Linked DNA regions of Homo sapiens. The protein of the gene in region 2 purifies or fractionates together with the protein of the main gene of each other region. This does not show direct contact. Each region holds a gene or a part of one and is shown on either strand. Other genes may lie near its edges.

Evidence for each region.
Region 1: the proteins of CDH19 (region 2) and SETX purify together in Homo sapiens (affinity purification with mass spectrometry; 2 studies listed by BioGRID and IntAct, with this or other methods). This does not show direct contact.
Region 3: the proteins of CDH19 (region 2) and TPP2 purify together in Homo sapiens (affinity purification with mass spectrometry; 2 studies listed by BioGRID and IntAct, with this or other methods). This does not show direct contact.

What each region holds. Positions count from the first base shown.
Region 1 is NC_000009.12:132,344,976-132,352,002, reverse strand, and holds part of SETX (probable helicase senataxin), read left to right. Parts: intron 1-2,567; 5' UTR 2,568-2,574; coding exon 2,575-2,751; intron 2,752-5,531; coding exon 5,532-5,742; intron 5,743-7,027. UniProt on the Homo sapiens protein: Probable RNA/DNA helicase involved in diverse aspects of RNA metabolism and genomic integrity.
Region 2 is NC_000018.10:66,601,082-66,608,558, reverse strand, and holds the start of CDH19 (cadherin-19 isoform 1 preproprotein), read left to right. Parts: upstream 1-4,468; 5' UTR 4,469-4,605; intron 4,606-7,477. UniProt on the Homo sapiens protein: Cadherins are calcium-dependent cell adhesion proteins. They preferentially interact with themselves in a homophilic manner in connecting cells; cadherins may thus contribute to the sorting of heterogeneous cell types.
Region 3 is NC_000013.11:102,599,970-102,606,996, reverse strand, and holds part of TPP2 (tripeptidyl-peptidase 2), read right to left. Parts: intron 2,205-7,027; coding exon 2,076-2,204; intron 1-2,075. UniProt on the Homo sapiens protein: Cytosolic tripeptidyl-peptidase that releases N-terminal tripeptides from polypeptides and is a component of the proteolytic cascade acting downstream of the 26S proteasome in the ubiquitin-proteasome pathway.

The DNA of each region.
Region 1 (7,027 bases), on a different chromosome or scaffold from region 2:
AGCCTAAGGATAAGTCTGTAGAAAATTACAGTAATACCTATGGTGAAGCATCCTATATTTTTGGTTTTGACACATTAGCTCTCTTTTTGGTGGGTGCTCAGAGAGTTGCTTTAATTTTGGTTTTGCAACTTGAGTATTGTCTGGACACACCCATTTGTCATTCACTAATGATTGCAAGCCGTTACAGTCTGATGAAACTAACAAAATAGACCTCAAGAAGAACTGAGTTGTATAAAAGCTTAAGAGGATTCACAGTAGTTTAGAAGCAATAATTTTCTCCTTAAAGACAAAATATGCCCTATTGAGGTTTCCTGGGCTTAGCCATTAGGCCAGTGATGATTTTAAATTTGAAGACAAAACCACACACACAGCCTTTTGAAGAAGAACCATGGAAGCACATGTTCTCTTGTTGGTGTGCTCTGCAGCAGTATTCTCCGTTATCTTCTAGCGGCCATGACACTCACCTATTTTGGTAGTAACTCCTATATATTTTGAGAAAATTTAGTCTTGCTTTTTTGGTTGTGGAAATAGGCTAGTTTTCTAAGTGAAATAAAAAGCAAATTCTGTAATTTTCTTAATAGAAGGTTTCTTTTGTTGTCTCCTTTGTTAGTACTTATTTTAAAGTACACAACATTTGGAGCTTCAAGTAAGGTAAGTGGGAAAAGAAGTATGCAACATTTTATTTGCATGGTAGTCTCACTTAAGTTTTTTAAAGCTTAAATTGGCTGCAGTCTGTTAGCTGCTGAAATCATGCTTCAAATGTTTGAGAAACCTCCATGAAGTTTCACTTTCTGTTCTTACGTCTTCTAAGTTCACTTTCCATATTAAACTAGGTTACCGGAAAAAAAAACAGCTTCTGCAAGCTGTTAACTTACTAGTAGTGTGATGTTGGCCTCTTAGGTATAAGTAATTCTTCTTTTGAATAAAATAATTTTAAATTCTGCAGAAATACATTGAAGACCTTATCCCATGTTACTTGGCATTTCCTAGTCTGCAGTGCCCTTGTACTAGAAGGCATTAATAAAATGTAATTGAGTTAGAGTTTGTGTCAGGAAAGGGCGGTACTCTGCGGCTATCACTGCATACTCTTTTTCCCCCCCACGTCGATGAGAACTGTGTAACTCATGTTATCCTTTTTCTCTGCTTTCAGGAAGCTCCTCATGTAGAACTTAGTGAAATTAAATTTCTTCTAAAGAAGTTTTGATTTTGTTTTTTGAAATCTCATTTTTAAATGTCCTTTTGTGTGTATGTACTTTAATGTTGAAAGCTACCCTAAATTCTTTTTAGAACCATGAAGAAAGTATACCTCTTCAAAAGCATAAGTAAAAGTAATATTTAATAAATTTTAAAAAATCAATTCATATGACAATGTATTTGATTATGCTTATGCATTTCTAAATAATTATTTAATTGTGGGTATAAGAAGAAATTAAAGAATTTTAAAAAATCACTTTATTTTAGGAACTAGCTTTATGCCACAGAAGCCTCAGCAGCCAAGCCTAGTTTCTGTTGAGATGTTTTATATTTCCTGTTGGTAAAGATTATGTATTCTGAATTTTAGGGTGACGGTGATACTCAAAAATCTCACACTGCCATGTTTCCATTCCCACATACTCAGTGTCTTCACTTAGGTTTCTTTTGTTTGTTTGTTTTGAGACAGAGTTTCACTCTGTCACCCAGGCTGGAGTGCAGTGGCGCAATCTTGGCTCACTGCAACCTCTGCCTCCCACGTTCAGGCAGTACTCCTGCCTCAGCCTCCCAAGCAGCTAGGATTGCAGATGCGCACCACCAGCTAATTTTTGTATTCTTTTTAGTAGAGATGGGGTTTCACCATGTTGGCCAGGCTGGTCTCGAACTGCGGACCTCAAGCAGTCTGCCCACGTCGGCCTCCCAAAGTGCTGGGCTTACAGGCATGAGCCACCGTTCCCAGCTTACTTAGGTTTTTTAACCTCCTTCTAACCTTTCTCCCTGAGTGGAGAGTTTTTAAACATTTTTAAAAACTGCCTCTCCTGTGAATTTTATTACCACCAATATATTGTGTCTCTCTTTATGTACTGTATGTTTATCTGAGCTTTATATCTAAAAAGAGGAGGGCTTTTTCACGTCCCACTAACTAGTTTTAGATCTCTTTGAGGGTGACATCACTCCTGATGAGAATGCTGAGCTAGGTCCATTCAGTTTATGAAATGAACTTAAGTTTGTAGTTGGTAACTTTTTTCCCCATTCCAAAATCTGTACTTTGAAAATATTGGTAAGTCTGGGTCTCTATATATTTTCTATCGGTACTGTGTTGTTTTGAGCCTTCTCTGTAGCACAACTTTATGTTGCCTTATGATACTTATTCCTTATACAATGCTTTTATTTTTCTGTATTTTTCGTATGTCAAAAATAGAAGGATTTTTTTAGTTTAGTGAATCAGTGATTGATAAGCCAGCCAGCAGAAGATTTGGGTTTTAGTGACACATTTTAAATTGAAACCAGGGTCACAAGTTGAAAGTGTACCTATTCTTGACACACAGTAGGTCTGAAGTTGGTTTTCTTCTTGATGTCATCTTTTCTGGCTGTAGGTACAGAATGAGCACATGTTGTTGGTGTACGCCAGGTGGTGCTTCCACCATTGACTTCCTAAAGCGCTATGCTTCCAACACTCCGTCCGGTGAATTTCAAACAGCCGACGAAGACCTCTGCTACTGCTTGGAGTGTGTGGCTGAGTACCACAAAGCAAGAGATGAATTGCCATTCTTGCATGAGGTAAAATATATTAGATGGGCAATATTTTTCAGAGCTTGATAGCTGGGAAGAGAGTAAGTTTGAACTCCGTTGGAAGTATTCAGAGAAATGATGATACGATTTCAACTTTGTGGGTTTTTTTTTTTGTTTTTGTTTTGTTTTTGTTGTTGTTAGAGATGGAGTCTCACTCTGTCACTCAGGCTGGAGTGCAGTGGAGTGATTATACATATATCATTTTACACATTCGAGTATATTCTTAGGACAAATTCCTGAAAGTGGAAGTGCTGTCTCATGATTTTCCATGGGCCACATGGGTTTTCATAGTTTGTTTTGCTATGTTTTGGAGACAAGGTCTTTGCTCTGTTGCCCAGGCTGGAAGTGCAGTGGTGCGATCACGGTTCACTGCAGCCTCAACCTTCTGGACTCAAGCCATCCTCCCACCTCATCCTCCTGAGTAGCTGGGACTACAGGCATGTGCCACCATGCTCTGCTAATTTTTAAAATTTTTTTGTAGAGACGAGGTCTTATTATTTTGCCCAGGCTGGTCCTGAACTCCTGAGCTCAAGTGATCCTTCCGGTTTGGCCCCCCAGTGTTGGAATTACAGGCATGAGCCACCATGCCTGGCCGACTTTGAAGGCTAATATAAGTCAAGTACCTAACTCATTGCCTGGTATATACTAGGTGCTGAGTAAATGTTTATCACGGATGGAATTGAAACCTGGATCAGAATTTTATGATCTGTTGCTTTTAGTCACATTGGTATAAAATAATTTAATGAAATAAAGTCATTGGGAGGGGATTTGTTTCATAATTTTTTGGTCAGTGCTATAATACATGCATGTATCTGAGTATCTGAATGGCCTGGGTTTTTGTTAGTGGGTTGTTTTTTTTTTGTTTTGTTTTTTTTTTGAGACAGAGTCTCACTCTCTTGTCCAGGCTGGAGTGCAGTGGCGTGATCTTGGCTCACTTCAACCTCTGCCTCCCAGGTGGGTTCAAGCGATTCTCCTGCCTCAGCCTCCCAAGTAGCTGGGACTAAAGGCACGTGCCACCACACCCGGCTAATTTTTTATTTTTAGTAGAGATGGGGTTTTACCATGTTGGCCCAGCTGGTCTCAAAACTCCTGACGTCAGGTGATCTGCCCACCTCGGCCTCCCAAAGTGCTGGGATTACAGCTGTGAGCCACTGCGCCTGGCCAGGGTTTTTTTTTTTTAATTGGTAATAATAACTTCTTTTTTTCTTTTTTTAATGGGCAAATGGCATAAACCTTTAAGGGCAAGCATATTTTCCAGTCATGATAACAAAAGTGAAAGATATAATTCTAAATATTTGGCTTTGAATATTTGGTTTATTTATTGATGAAAAACAGAACGTAGACCATAGAGATATATACAGTATATAGAGGAGAGGATGATTAGTAATGGACTTGTGTTGAGAAACGTGCACTTTATAAAGTTTTCTAATTATGAAGCTATCCAGCGTCTTTTATACCACAAGCTGCACTAAGGTAGTTAGCTATGGCTAGAACATAGAAGGGAAGACATAGAAGGGCCTCGGTTTTGCATTTGACAGAGAGGCTCCAGCTTCTCTTTTTTTTTTTTTTGAATGTAGTTGATAGGGATGTTGAGATATTTATAGAAAACTTCTACAAGAGAAGTGTTTAAGGCTGAGTGCTGTAGCTTACACCTGTAATCCCAGCACTTTGGGATGCTGAGGCAGGTGGATTACGAGGTCAGCAGTTTGAGACCAGCCTGGCCATCATGGTGAAAGTCCGTCTCTACTAAAATACAAAAATTAGCCAGGCGTGGTGGTGGGCGCCTGTAATCCCAGCTACTCAGGAGGCTGAGGCAGGAGAATCGCTTGAACCTGGGAGGCCAAGGTTGCGGTGAGCTGAGACCACGCCATTGCACTCCAGCCTGGGCGACAGCGAGATTCTGTCTCAAAAAAAAATAAAAAGTGTTTAAACATAGCATACTATTTTTTGTTTTCTTGTTTTTTTTCGTTTGTTTGGTTTTTTGTTTGAGATGGAGTTTCCCTGTTGTTGCCCAGGCTGGAGTGCAGTGGCGTGATCTTGGCTCACTGCAACCTCCGCCTCCTGGGTTCAAGCGATTCTCCTGCTTCAGCCTCCCGAATATGGGATTACAGGCATGCACCACTACGCCTGGCTATTTTTGTATTTTTAGTAGAGACGAGGTTCCTCCGTGTTGGTCAGGGTGGTTCTGAACTCCCGACCTCAGGTGATCCGCCCACCTCAGCCTCTCAAAGTGCTGGGATTACAGGCAGGAGCCAGTGTGCCTGGCCTGTTTTCTTTTTCTCTTAGAGGCAGGGTTTCCCTATGTCATCCAGACTGGAGTACAGTGGCACAATCATAGCTCACTGTAGCTTCAGATTCTTGGGCTCAAGTGATCCTTTTGCTTCAGCCTCCAGAGAAGCTAGGACTGTAGGCATGCACCACACCTAGCTAATTTTTCTATTTTTTTTTTTTTTAGTGACAGGGTCTTGCTTTGCTACCCAGGCTGGTCTCGAACTCCTGACCTGAAACAGTCCTCCTACCTCAGCCTTCCAAAATGCTGGGATTACAGCTGTGAGCCACTGTGCCTAGCCAATATCTCATACTCTGTGTACTCACTTTTCATAAAAGTGGCCACATTTGAATAGTTTTCTTTAAATCTAAAATACAAGCTCTAATACTTTACATTTCAGAATTTTTGTACTTAGGAAAAGGCTTTCTAGGTCGTCACATTCAGTGTATTTTGTTGATGATAAGACATAACGCACACTGCCCATTTTATTTTCCTCTAGGTTTTATGGGAATTAGAAACCTTACGTCTCATAAATCACTTTGAAAAATCCATGAAGGCAGAAATTGGAGATGATGATGAGTTATATATAGTAGACAATAATGGAGAGATGCCACTGTTTGACATCACTGGGCAAGACTTTGAAAATAAGCTTCGAGTTCCTCTTCTTGAAATACTGAAATATCCTTACTTGCTTCTACATGAACGTGTTAGTGAGTATCTTGATGGTTCCTCAAGTTATATCAGTTTTATTATTTTAGTACCATAAGAATTTAGGCTTATCTATATTGCAAATTTGTTTGCTAAACATATAATTAGGATATATAATTAGGACTTCATTTTTTTTCCAACGTTTTTTATTTTTTGAGTTCAAACACAAAATACCTATTTTTGGGGCACAGTTCAAACTTATCTTGTTCAGAGGGTAACTGAAGATTGTTTTTATTTTTTTTTAGAGACAGGGTCTTGCTGTGTCTCCTAGGCCGAAGTGCAGTGGCGCAGTCATGGCCCACTGCAGCCTCTACCTCCTGGGCTCAAGTAATACTCCTGCCTGAGCCTTGTGGGTAGCTGGGAGTACAGGCGTGTGCCATTGCGTCCAGCTAATTTTATGTTGTGTTTATTGTAGAGATGAAGTTTCACTGTTGCCCAGGCTGGTGTTGAACTCCTGGGCTCAAGCAGTCCTCCCACCTCAGCTTCCCAAATTGCTGGGATTATAGGCACGAGCCACTATGCCTGGCTCTCAACATTTTATTGTGAAAATTTTTTAACATAGAAAAGTAAATTATACAGTGAACATGATATACCCATCACATAGTTTATACGGTTGTTAACATTTTGCTATATTTGCTTTATTACGTATCTGTTCACCTCTTTGTTCAATTATTAATAATTTTCATTCTCGCCGGGCATGGTGGCTCACGCCTGTAATCCCATCATTTTGGGAGGCTGAGGCAGGCAGAGCACCTGAGGTCAGGAGTTCAAGACCAGCCTTGCTAACATAGTGAAACCCTGTCTCTACTAAAAATACAAAAATTAGCCAGGTGTGGTGGCAGGCACCTGTAATCCCAGCTACTCAGGAGGCTGAGGCAGGAGAATCACTTGAACCTGGAAGGCGGAGGTTGCAGTGAACCAAGATTGTGCCACTGCACTCCAGCCTGGGTGACAGACAGAGACTCTGTCTTAAAAAATAGTAATAATAATAATTTTCATTCTTGTAGTATGTCTGTGGCAGGGTTTCTCAGCCTTGCATTGGTGACATTTTGGATAATCCTTTGCTGTGGGCTGTGCCGTCCATTGTAGGATGTGTAGCAGCATCCCTGGCCTTTGTCTACTAAATGCCGCTAGCACTCCCTATCTCCTTTGTGACAACCAAAAATGTCTCCAGACATTGCTGAATACCCCTTTTGGGGGGTGAGGTATAAAATCACCCCTGGTTGGGAAATGCTATTCTGTAGTAATTTTCATTAACCACTATGGCATGGCTTATTATAGCTGTCT
Region 2 (7,477 bases):
TTTAAGAAGTAACCAAAATTTTATAAAAACATGGAAACTCTTCCAGAAATTAAATGTTCATATTAATATTGTCCTGGTGAAAGAAAAAGTAAAAGTTAATCTACCGTTTCAAAGAGGTTGGTGCCTAGGTGAGATGTTTCTAATAAATTCTGGTAATATAAACAGAAAACAAGGCTGACATACCTCTACACGTTTATGTCTGAATTTAAGTATTTTGGGTTGTTTGTTTGCATATTGACAATTACTAAATTATTCTTGTAATGAGCCTTTTTTGTTATTTATACATTTATTCATTGTTAATTACTATAATGGATTTCTTCCGTCATGGAGATTATGTTGCGGCTTGGCAAATATACATACATATATATATTTCTTAAATATACTGCTCCAGAGAAAAGTCTTCTTACAAAAGAAAATAAAAACAAAACAACTTTGGGAGGCCGAGGCGGGCAGATCACGAGGTCAGGAGATCGAGACCATCCTGGCTAACACGGTGAAACCCCGCCTCTACTAAAAATACAAAAAATTAGCCGGGCATGGTGGCAGGTGCCTGTACTCCCAGCTATTAGGGAGGCTGAGGCAGGAGAATGGCTTGAACCCAAGAGGCGGAGCTTGCAGTGAGCCGAGATCGCCCCACTGCACTCCAGCCAGGGTGACCGAGCAAGACTCCGTCTCAAAAAACAAACAAACAAATAAATAAATGAATTAATTAATTAATTAAATATAAAAAGAAAAAGAAAAAAGAATGAATACAAAAATAAGAAAATAAGGACATATATATGACAATAAAATTTTTTATTATATTAGACAAGTGGCTACTGTAACTAGAATTTAAAAGATAAATCTTCAAACCATACAAATTGTTGCCATATTCAAGACAATATTTCTTTACTCTGAGCAAAATTTGTGTAATTTTGATACAAAGTATTTTAGCATGGTTAGAAGTATATAGATTAGTGAATATTTTGTTTATTGTTTGTTCTATCATTGTGCATTTTTTTATTTCCCCATATTTATCATTGTGATATATATTCAATGTTAAAAACAGAATGGAAAACACAGCAAATTGGACTGTTGGAAAAGAATGCCATTTAATGGCAATCCATGGAGAAAATTATTATTTTTATTTTCAGCATTTTAAAAGCTATTTTACATGAATATCTGAAGTGAACACTGGACGTCTAGTTGGTTATCAACTAGATTCAACCACTCCACTCTAATTTGGGGAAATGAATCTGTTTTTCTATCAACTAACTCTTTCTCTCAGGTTCAGGAATGACAATTACTTTAAGCTTTTCTTGTTGCCATTCTTTGTTCATGCATGGACAAGTGATCATTTTGATGAATAAGACGAAAGTGACAGTGTTTTTGAGGGCCTTGAGGAAAAGTTGGAGAACCAAACAGAGCCCAAGAACCTAGATAACTGATTGCAGTAGGAAGCCACTGGATCAACTAACCCTTAACCCTACTTTATTTCTCTATGTATACATTGAATTTCTTCATTATTCTATTCATTTTTGGATTTGATTTTGTTTGATTTTGCTATCTGCTTGCTAGTCAATAGATTTCTCATTGATATAGTGATAGCATACAGTAAATATCTGTTTTAAATGTTCTTGTATTAACATATTATAAGCTTTTCCCAAAACAACTTAAATATATTTTTAAGAACTAAAATGCTTCCAGACCATGTGAGAAGGATGTGGTCCTTAGATTATGCTATCCTGACAACACCTGATTGGACAAGGCCTAAATTTCTAATTGAAGGCACATGTATAGCCTATGATATAAAGTAGGTAGACTTAAACTTTCTGGTTAAATGTCTATTTTCAAGGGACAGATCAGAGCTTGCATAATGTTTGACTTTCCATTTCTGCCTGTTCAGTTAAATTCAAACTTCATTAGCCAGTCTTGTCTGCGGTTAGTCATTAGATATATATTTCTTAATTATCTGGTTTAAAAAATTGGTGGCTCTGAATTATAATACTTGAATTCAAATTTTTATTTAGAGTAACTCAATACAATCCTGGCTTCTGCAACTTCAAGCTCTGTTCCTTAGCCTGCTGGCAGGTGATAACTGTGAAATTCCCCCAGACTGCATGTGAAAATAGACCAGAATGTCACTGTGCAGCTATAAAACATCACTTGTGTTTCGGGAATTGTCCATCCTGCCACATGTTTACTGCTGTGGGGACCTCAGATAACTCTGAGTATGATAACTCTGACTTACATATGGATAGTAGTGTATTTAATTTTGAGCTTCTGTTCTTACACAGTCATGTTCCATTTACTATGTATTACCCCCCCATATATGAAAAATTAGTCAGATATATTTCTCTTGTTATAAAGAAAATGACGTAGAAGTAATCATTAAGCTGGGCCGGGTACGGTGGCTCAAGCCTGTAATCCCAGCACTTTGGGAGGCCAAGGCGGGCGGATCACGAGTCAGGAGATCGAGACCATCCTGGCTAACATGGTGAAACCCCGTCTCTACTAAAAATACAAAAAAATTAGCAGGGCGTGGTGGCGGGCGCCTGTAGTCCCAGCTACTCGGGAGGCTGAGGCAGGAGAATGGCGTGAACCCGGGAGGTGGAGCTTGCAGTGAGCCGAGATTGCGCCACTGCACTCCAGCCTGGGCGACAGAGAGAGATTCCATCTCAAAAAAAAAAAAAAAAAAAAAGAAGTAATCACTAAGCTTATCTGATGACCAGTCCCCTAAGTACTTCCAAGTCTTCATTCTTGGTTGTGGCATAGCGGATGAATCTTGCTGGATCCTTGGCTATCGGCTGTTCATCTTATATCCTCTTCCAGAAAGGGCATGCATTTCTTAAGCAATTTACAGCAACTAGTTCCTGTACGTGTTTGATAATAGATTATCTATTTAATAAAATCAGTTTGCTGTTAATGATATTCTACATAAAACATGTAGTTTCACACTGTACCTTCTTTAGAAAATTTAATCCTGTCTCACTGTGGTTTCTATAGTTGCCATTGCTCTTTATTGGTACTGTAATAATCAGGGCAGCAAATTGTGACCCACCTTTGCTCCCTTAGGCTCTAAAATAAGCCTTTGGGACATCATGTTTACAGGTACACTGAGGCTCTAAACTGTGGTTTCAATCCTAAGTGCAACTGGATATTTTATAAACATCAAGATATAAATTGGCATCTCATAAAATGTTAGATTCTTACAGAAATCCTAGACTAGGTCATAGACAGAACAGTGAATTATGTAAATAAATATTTTAAACAGGTATCTCCACCTTTTTTGATACTGTAAAAAATATGAAGGGGGAAATGTATAAGAATACTTCAGAGGTTCTTTGTAAAATTTATTTTTTCCCTATTTACTAACATCTTGAAACACTTAGAAGTGTTTTTTTCTAGCTGAATGCTTTTTTCTACCTGAAAAAATAAAATATTTCCACATTATACTGTTCCTGCTATCCACAGATCTATTCTCCCAGGTTCATCTCTTCAAGATTTGTTCATAAATTATTGATTCCTCCTAATATTCACAACCTCATAGGATGTGCATTTGTGCGTGTGTGTGCATATGTATGTGTGTGCACATGTATGTGTATGCATGTGTGCACATGTGCATGTGTGTATATGTGTGTGCTTGAGTGTCCTACTTTACTGCCCATATAGCTTTTGCCATTTCTTTCCTCAAAAGCTAAGAGGATAGTGACCAAAATATCTATCAGAATTAACAGGATGCTTGAATAATCCTGCCCCACATAGACTTTCTTATTATATAGGTATAATTTAAGAAACTTTTAATATTTTAATGTTTCTCTAGTTTGGTTCAAAAATGGTTTTTAAGTAAATAACAGCTTGAGTAAACAGCATAGAAAATACATATGTATTTTATGTTAAATAATAATAGCTTATATCAAAATCTAATTATAACCATGAATAAAATAAAAGATTTTACATAATAATAAACCAAGGAAAAGAAAAGGACTTATTAAAGTTTAGACATTTCTCTCTCATTATGTCTTTACTTGATTTCTGAGGAGAAATGACCGAATTAAGAAACAGCCATGAGGCATAGACACACAGTGGAAAATCATTTCTCTTTTCAGTAAGTTTTGGGTCTGCTTTAAATTGATCATTTGTTTCATCAGCTAATCCCCAAACAGAGGGCACGTCCGCTCTACTTGCAAAATTCTTGTATGTAAGTTGAATTCTCCCTTTATCAACTCAGGCCAATAAGTACTTTATTTTGTTTTTGCTTGTTGTTAGGGGAAAAAAAAAAAAAACAAAGATAATCAGCTCATACTACTTGCGTAGCTGTCTGCATTTTAATTCCAGACTATGAACGAGCGTCAGAGTGCCCTTATGATATTTTGCACAAAAGGCTCAGTGTTTATGACTCTACTCAGAGAACCCAAAATAGCATTGAGTAAGCAGTGACATACTGACAGTGTTGTGGTACTAAAAGCACAAGCGTCTGTAACTCTGGGCAATGGGGCACATCGAGAGTTTGCTGAGAAGACTGTGAAGCAAAAAGAAGAAAGTTTTTCCTACTCTTCCTTATGTGTCCAACACGAAGTTTGCTGTTCAGTTTTCACAGAACTTCTAGAAGTTGAAGTTACAAAGGTAAGACTGTGATAATCAGGCATATTATAAACTACATGCATCATCTTTAATGAGTCAATAGGTCAAAAAGTACATGACAAAATGTTGCTAGGAAAATATTCTAAAAATATTAAGGAAAATATTTACATAGGAAATAAGGAAAATATTCTAAAAATTTTAAAACCATGATGTGTACTTGTACTGAACTTTCTCAAAACACGTATTTGTGAGAACAGTTCTCCATCTCTGTAATACAGATTGTTGGTGTTGGGGGGAAGTTACACCTATGTTAGGATATTTAAAACTTCTCAAGTTTCTTAGAATAAATGAATCAACCTTTCTTTGCATGTCTTTCTTTGCACTTTTTTCTTTGTTCAGGGTTTTATTTTTTATTTATCATGTATTTACCATGTATATCAGGTAATATGAACAATAGAGTTGTCATCATTAAGTATATGAGAAAAAATATATACAGAATAAATATGAAAAATTTTAAGTATATTATAATTCCAAAAAAATTAAAATATTAGCATTGCTATGAATAAAAACACATATATGCCTAAAATTGTACAGGCATATTAATTTACCTATATGTATTATAACATTTATACATAACACAAAAGGTAATTTCTCAAATATGAAAGTATAAATTAAGAAAAGTATAAATTAGGAAAATGCATACTGTAAAAGACATTTTATATTGTTTCAATTCTAATTTGGTACATGCAATTTTAATTGAATAACTAATTATAATAAAATATTTCAAAATAAGTTTACCAAAGGGATTTAATAAATCTATTAAATATAAAAACATAAAATATTTAGCAACAAAAAATACCTAAATAGAGTGGCAAAGGTTTTCTTTAGATTATGTCAATTTATATTTTAGCTCTATTAATTCATTTGTTGAATTAATATATCTGTAAGAAAGACATTATTTAGATAAAATATTTGAAAATTTAGTAATATATATTTATGTTTTAGATGTAGTTACAATATTAAGTAAAATTATATGCATTAATATATTCTTTTTTCAAATTCTTAATATTGTAATTATCAGCAGTATGCCTACTTACTATAATTTTTGATTTCAAAGAATTTAAATTTCAATGTAATGTGAACATTTATATTGACCAAATAAAATAACTAACAATTTATTTTTAAAAGGAATAAGCATTTCATTATTGTCTGCAATTATTCAAAATTTTTAAACAATCAATTTATGTCATTTAGAAACCACCAGATCTCCTTTCCTTTACATATGTTTTCCACTTTACCAAGCCTTTATAACAGTGAACGAAATGCTCATATCATTATATAAATATCTGATTTTTACAGTCTTACACATTAGTAAATTCTTTACTTAGGCTCCAGTGAAATATTTATAATTTTAGGCACACACAGACACATCTGCATATATCGAAAAGCATATGTCTTCTACTTATATTTTTTGTTTTGTTTTGTTTTTCACTTAGGAATGTTTGTAAGGTACATTTCCTCAAGAAACATAAAAAAATTTTTGATTAAATTATCATAAATTGAAGATGCTTTAAAATGATGTGCACAGATGCCTCCTATGCATTATTAAGAAACCAGATCCATCTTTCAGGAATTTCTCCTAATACAGCTACATATAATCTGATACATATCATCTATAACTAAATATCAACTGATCATTTTTGCCACTCATGATCTTAGCATGTACTCTTAAATATATGTTATGTTTAAAACATTACATAGCAGTATTCAGCATGTTAGTGAGTAGTAATGCATTAGGAATAAATGTGTTAAACTGTTTAAAAGGAGATATTGATCTTTCTATATACCTTCTTTACATGAGAATTTATTGCTCCTAACCAAGTGTTTGAGAACCATGCTGGTGAATAAGAAAAATTTGTTGTCACGACGATTTCCTTTAACATCGATGATCTTCTATCACCTGTATCTTTGCTTTGGTGAAACAGATTGAAGTTGAAACACAACTAAGTATGGAACGTAATAATAATCCCACAGGAATCCTTTCTATCAATGGTGAAGACAGCCCCTGATTGACAAAATGAGTGTCTTTGCAAAAGTGACTAGAAAGATGTTTGCCACTTTAAAATCAAATCAAAACAAAACAAGATAAACTGTACCCTTACAGCGTTTTTTTTTACCCACTCTCACCACCTTTCAATTGAGAGAACACAGCTAAATGCTCTAAAGCCTGTCAAAATGTGTAACAGATCAATTTCCTTTTCAAATGATGCCTGCCCTCTTGAATATGCTGATATGATTCGTTAAGAGAATGCTTGTCTGAATTTAAAACATACTCTAGAATACATACCTTTGTCAAAATGTGTCACATTAATTACTCAATAATTATATTCAGAATCATCCAAGTATGTCTTAAGATTAAAGCAAAACATCATTTTTAAAAATCCTGCCTTGGCACAACACGTGAAATTTGAAATGTTATTTTAGGACAGTGGTTTCTCAACATACCAGAGCAGTAGATCCAGTTTAGCTGTTTTTTAATTCTAAGAAGTTTCATGATAAATGAAATTTGCAAATTTGCAAGATACTGTATTAAAGTGGGGATAATTTTGGCACATCAGTCATGTCTTAAAATAACCTAGGCAGTTTTATCTGTGTGCAAAATTTAGAAATGTCATTCCTGTGGAAATGAGCAAATCATAAATACATCACAGAAAAGAAGTCGCTATTTTTTTGACTTTAAGTTGTTTTATAGTTAAATTGTGTCAGAGAGTTTGCCATCTATTTTATTCCTAAAAAGGCCTGGTGGAGAATATATGACTTTCCTTGATGTAGAGATAATACTACTAAACATAAAGATAAACATAAAATGTAACTAGAATAATAATAAAGGCAAAGAGAAAAGGTATAGATGCAT
Region 3 (7,027 bases), on a different chromosome or scaffold from region 2:
CTAATCCTATCCTGAGGGGACACATACTCATAACCTCATCTAACCCTAAATACCTCCCAAAGGCCCAACTTTCAAATACCAACACAAAGAGGGATAGGGCTTCAATGTATGAATTTTGGCAGGGGGTGGGGACACAGATAATCAGTTCCTAACACACAGAAAAGGAAGTAGAACCTGGATTATTAATGGCTGCTATCTGCCCATGACAGGCAGATTTCTAAGAAGACCCACGTCCCTCCCCTAAGTGAAGGCAGGACCCGTGAATATAATGAGATGTCACTCCCATGATTGCGTTATGGTACGTAAAGAAGGTGTAGGGATTTTGCAGACGCAATTAAGGACTCTGAGCAAATCAAAAGTGACATGATTCTCAGCGGGCCTGAACTAATCAGGTGAGTTCTTTAAAAGAAAGACTGGGGTCATCACCAAGGTCAGAGATTCTCTTACTGGCCTTGAAGAAGCAAGCTATCATGAGTTTTACAGCTGCAATGAAATGAATTTTTCCAACAATCATGTAAACTTGGAAAAGAAGCCTGAGCCTCAGCTGAGCCTTTAATCTTGACTGCAGTCTTGTGAGACCCTGAGCAGAGACCCACAAAAAGCCATGCCTGGACTCCTACCCCATGGAATCAGTGATATAATAAATACAGGAATACACAAGGTTTTAGGCGGCTAAGTCTGTGGTGCTTTATTACACGGCACAGAAAGCCAATATGCTGCCACAACAAGCTTACTTAAAAGACAAGACCTAAGAACAATTCAGATAGATGGCAAAAGGTGGGAAAAGCTAACTAAATAACCATAATTTTATGTTCCAAACTAATGCTGCTTAAGAGTACAGGATCACAAATTCTTGCCATCCATCCTTCATGCTCCTTAGCTCATGAGCTCCTCTGTGCTTGCTTTATAATTATTTTTTACGTTTAGCTTACCCAGGCCTTTCTACCAAGGACATAGAATAAGACAAAGCTGGTAGGCCGAGTGCCCTGGCTCACGCCTATAATCCCAGCACTTTGGGAGGCTGAGACAGGCGGATCACAAGGTCAAGAGTTCGAGACCAGCCTAGCCAAAATGGTGAAACCCTGTCTCTACTAATCATACAAAAATTAGCTGGACGTGGTGGCGGGCACCTGTAATCCCAGCTAATTGGGAGGCTGAGGCAGGAGAATTGCTAGAACCCGGGAGGCGGAGGTTGCAGTGAGCCAAGATTGCACCACTGCACTCTAGCCTGAGCAACGGAGCAAGACTCTATGTCTCGAAAAAAAAAAGAAAAAAAGAAGTTTAAAAAAAAAAAAAAGACAAAGCTGGCCATTTAAGTTAACAGCTACTATAGCCTAAGTATTTCTTCATGGTCAAGTTAACTGGGAATACTATGAAGGGACAGTAAAACATGAAGGCAAAGCTATGATGTGGTTACTTTCTCTATCTTTGTATTCAAAACATAAAATTTGGCAAGCTCACTGAAAAATACCGCCCAATTCTAATTACCTCATCAAACAACAAAATAATGGCTTCTTCTAAGACAGCTCCAATGATTCATTTCTTGTGAAATCCCTTCCCCTTAAGTGTGTGCTAGATTTATTAACTCACTTCCAATGAGCTCAATATAGTCAAGTGATAGGTGGTCCCTTAGAAGGTCACTTTTATAAAAAGCCTGTGGCTTTCATCGTGGGGACTCTCTCGGCTCACTCCCCCAGGGAAGGTGCTGCCAGGTACTGCAGCACTGCGGAGAGGCCCAATGGCAAGGAGCCAAGGCCTGCCAGTGACCCACCAGTAGGCTTGGAAACAAACTTCCCCTTCTTCTCCCAAGCTGAGCCTTCAGCTGAAGTCACAGCCATGGCTAACCATTTGCAACCTCCAGGGCGACTGGAACCCCGTTAAGCCACACCCAGATTCCTGACTCACAGAAACTCCGAGGTAATAAATATTTGTCATTTTAAACCAGGATGTTCTGAGGTAATCTGATATGTGGCAATGGATAACTAATACCACCACCAAATGTAAGGTAAAAACATTAGATGCTTTGAGGCAAGAGTAAAAAAAAAAAAATTCAAAAAGAAGACAAAAGGTCTCACCTTAAGCACTCTTCCTGAAAGGCCAACAATCTCACCATCCTTTGGCTCTACTTCTGTAGCAGTATTCACATCGCCACTTCCTGTTGTATCAATGATATCAACGATTTTTGGTTTTCCATCAGTTGTAACCTGAAAATTAAGAAAATTAAAATATGAATGGTAGATTTTAGGTTTTTATTCCTAAACAATGCAAATCCACATATATATGTGTGTGTATATACAAAATCTACATTCACTTAAAAAAGAGAACTGAACTGTTTTAAGCCAAAAGCCTGAACAAATACTAGTAAGAAAATTTAATCGTGGAAACACTACAGAATCCTTCAAGTCGTTTCATATATTCAATAAACAAATATTTACTGAGCATTTACTATAGACCACACCCTATTTTAGGTGCTGGGGATATGGCAGTGATCCATACGCAAAAATCCCTGACGATCTTATAGCGAGAAAGCAGTTCAGTTAATAACAAAGTAAAATAAAGAACATGTCAGATGTGCTATCACACTGGGTATTAGGGAAAAAAAAGAACATGTCAGATGGTGAAAATTAACTATGGAGAAAAATTAAGCAGGGAAGGGAGATGGTCAGTGTGGGGTTTTCAACATAAGTTTGGCTGGTCAAGGAAGGCCTTGCTGAGATGGTAACATTTGAGAAAAGATCTAAAGATGGTGAGCTGTGGGCTGGACAAGTTTAGAGCTTTAGGGGGAAAAAATGTTTAGTAGTAATGGTACCATTTAATGGCACCATTATTGGATGCCACACTAGCACCTCAAACGCAACAAAGTTCAAGCTTAACATGCCCCCCACCACCTGATTTTCTCCAGGCTTTGCCATCCCAGGAATCCCCACGCCCAGCTGTTCACACTGGAAACTTAACAATCCTCCTCTGATTCTTTACTTCAGTTGACTCCTCACAGCGAAGCTAACAGGAAATCCTGTTAATTCTTTGTCTAGAAGAGAGCTCAAATCCATTGCATTTTCACTACCACTATCCTAACTTTCCAAACCACCACCATCTCTTGCCTCCATGAGGTGAATTACCTAAGTGGTCCCTCAGTTTCCACTCTTGGCCCCATCAAAAGTAATACAGGCTGAGTGACCCTAACCTGAAAATTCCAAATGCTCCAAAATCATGGACATGAAGTTCAAAGGACATGTTCATTGGAGACTTTCGAATTTGCGATACTCAACCTGTATTAAAACAAGCTGTATTTTATCAGTCCTCTCCTTTAAGCCCATCAATGTATTCATGGAGCACTCAGAATACTCGCATAAAAAGCCTCGCACCATCTGACCCCTGCCACCCCGTTACTCAGGAGTCTAACCACGCCAACCTCCTTTCAATTCCTGAAACATGCCAAACTTTTTCCTGCCTCATGACTTTTTAAACAGGTTCCTTCTGCCTAGAATTCTTTATCTCTTCAGTTGTTCCACAGGATTCTATCTTCTCTCAGTTTTCTATTAAAGTCCCTCCTGCAGAAAGGCCTCCTCGATGACCTCCTTTAGGTAGCTGCCATCCTAAACTGGATTATTTTTTCTCACTGTACCTCATTTCCTTCACAGAACATAATTCTATTTCTAATGATACAAGTAGGTGATCTTCATCTGTTCCCCCTATTAGAATAGAAAGCTCCATGAAGGCAAGAGCCATGTCTACTTTATTCACGAACATACATATACCCACTACCTAGCAGTGCCTGTCAGGCATTCAATGAATACTTCATTACTGAATTACAAGACACAAGTTACTTAGCACTAAGACTGATTTTCAAAGGTTTGATTTCTTGCCAGTCCACAAATTTTCATTTGAGCCATAACATGATTGCTACAAGTAACAATATATATTTTTACACATTTTTGTGGGAAAATAATTTCTGGGCTCTTTCTTGGCTGGCTTTCCAAAGGGAATTTGTTGCATTCAGGAATATGTACTGAGTTACCAGCAGGAATCAGCCAGAAAACAGAGACACAACGACTGAAAAAAAAACAAAAAACGAAAAACAAAAAAACAAAAAAACAAAAAAACTCCATCCTCAAGAAAGAAACAGAAACATAAAAACCGTAGAAACTGTCAGTAAAGTGGAAGAGCACAGTCTTCAGACTCCAATTCCACCTGGAGAATTCACACTCTTTACGACAAAGCTTAATGTCCACTGCTCTGGGTCTTTCTGACCAACATGCCCCTCACCCCAACACAAGTATTTCCTCTGCAATAACCTCCAAGCTCTGTAATTAAGGTATACCCTGAAGAAGGAGAGGGAAATTCTCGATGTGGAGAAAACAAAAGCACACATTTTTTTTTCCTTTACCGGACAAAGCAAATGGGTGGTTGGTGGACCCCAAATCTCATTTCAATCTTGTTGCCATGGAACAACTGAGGGCCTGATAGCTGAAGGGGTCATAAAGGCCTCCCAGGCACAGCTGTTATTTTCATGTATGGTAATTCTCAAGTTGGATGTTTACTTCTTGGGAACTGTCCTATAATAGTAACAAATAAGAATTCTAATACTCAGAAAACTCAAAGTCATAATTAAAAAAAATCACTGTGGGAATCATACCAAACCCTGATACAACTATAAAACTTAAATCAGATACTGATTCTGAAGAGATAGGCTATATGTCTCAAAAATATAATTAAAAAAGAGAAAAATGTAAGAAAATCTACCAAAATAAAAATGGAAACAAAATTAAGTTGATACTACTTTATAAAATTAAAACTAGCTAGGTCATGTACTAATCATATAAGAAAATCACCTATTTTAAAATGTATTCCAATATGAAATTTGAAAGATATACAGTAGCACTAAGAACCCAAATCACCTATCTTCACCTCAATAAGCAAACCTGAGTGACTTGAGATCAAGAATAACAAGAGAGCACTAACAAGTCAGATAGATCTCTCATTAGAAACCTCATTATCAATATATTAGCAAAGGAAAAAAGCCTAATGGGATTTAATGGCTTATTTGTCACCTATTTCCACATGCTTTACTTACAAGGATCTCTCTCCTACACACACAAATTTTCATTACAAATTATTATACATGCAATTATCCTATCCATGAATTTCTTACTTTAATATTAGATAAAGAAAACCACTTCACTAGACATAAAAAGACAAAAACAGAAATGTAGGGTCAGAGGAGGGTTTTAAAAAGGCAAACCCCCTGAGGATTTGCCATGGTGTTTTGGGAGAAGTAAAGGAAAGGAGGAAGCTGAACTGCTAACAATGGAACTATATCACTCATCTCTGAGAAGGGGGAGGCTTCACATGGGAAAGAGGGACTGAAAGCATGGGCAGTTAGTATCGGTAAGAGCTTCGGTATTAAATCCTGGGTCCTGGGGTGGGAGACTGGGAAATGCTTACTGGGCTATGTTGGCTGGATGAAACAGAAATTGCCCAAAGCTTTTCCCAAAATGTCAAGAATCTAAGTTAGTGTATGTCTTCAATGTAACCAGTAAGGTAGAGGAGTTAGTGAAGGTTGGAAGATTTGCCAAACATTTGCAGAGAGGACCAGAACAAAAGGTAGGACATTTGCAGAGAGGACCAGAACAAATGGCGGGAAGTTTGCAATCTATCATAAACAACACAAAGTTAATGAGTTGACTTAAAATTTCAGGAAAGGTACTGAAAATATTCTTTTAAGCAAATAAAGATTTAATAAATATTAACCAGTGACTTTTATTCTAAGAATATAATGATTAATATAAATAAGACAATCTTTGCTTTTGTAAAGGTTACTATTGGTTGGAAAGAAAAAGTAAGTAGAGAGATGATGACAAAACAGGACAACAAATAATAGAGGTCAGGCCAGTCTGGGTAACACAGTGAGACCCTGTCTCTACAAAAAAATTAAAAAATTAGCTGGGTATGGTGGCACATGCTTATGGTCCCAGCTACTGCAGTGGCTGAGGCAGGAGGCTTGCTTAAACCCAGGAGTTTGAGGCTGAAATGAGTGGTGATCCTGCCACTGTGCCACTGTACTCCAGCCTGGGTGACAGAGTGAGACCCTGTCTTTGAGGGAAAAAAAAAAAAGAGGTTAGGACACTATCTATGAAAGCATACAAAAACATGTAAAAACACAAAACCCAACTTGGGGGGAATGAGGGAAAGCTAACTGAAAGAGAGGTAATAAAATTTTAGTGAATGTAAAAATAGAGTTTTATGAAACTACTCGTAACCTCCTCAAACCTTTTTTTTCCCTCTATGAGGAAATTATATTCCTTCATTATGCCCATATATATTTTTTCCATTCAACAAAAACATTTAACATTACAAGCACATGTCATACAATTTTGATACATGCTTTCAAAGATTTTTAAGTTAACCAGGAAAAAGTTATCTAAACAGAAACACTAAAATACATATTTCAGGTGCTATTAAGGGGATCTAAGCAAATTGCTATAACAGCAAAGAGACAAAAAGCCTAAATAACTCTTAGGAGGGATTGGGCCTTACTCACCTCTGAAGCTGCAGGCCCTAACACAATGGCAAACACACATAAATACGAGGTGGTGGGGGGAGGGGGCGCGCAGAATTAAATCAGTTGATTTTCCAAAACATAATGGTGTCAAGACCCGACTGGATCTTAAAGGATGAAGCAGGAGTTTACAGATGACGGATGGTAGAAGCCTGACGGAAGATGAAACGCCACATGTAAAGGCATGTATTGGCAAAAAGACCTGAAACATCTAGGTGAGTGTAAGAATGAAATGTTCAAGGGGAGGCAAAGGATGAAAGGTGGGGATGAAGGGGCTATGGACATAAGAAATGATGAGAACTGAGGCTACATAAGGAGGCCAGAGTTGGATGGCAAATGGCCTCATATATACCATTCAATTTTTTTTTTTAATTTTTACACAAAAGCAGTTGAGATTCCAAAATGGCTTTGTTTTAAATGAGGGTATAATACAAGGTTTTTTTTTTTTTTTAAGGAATCTAACTCTAG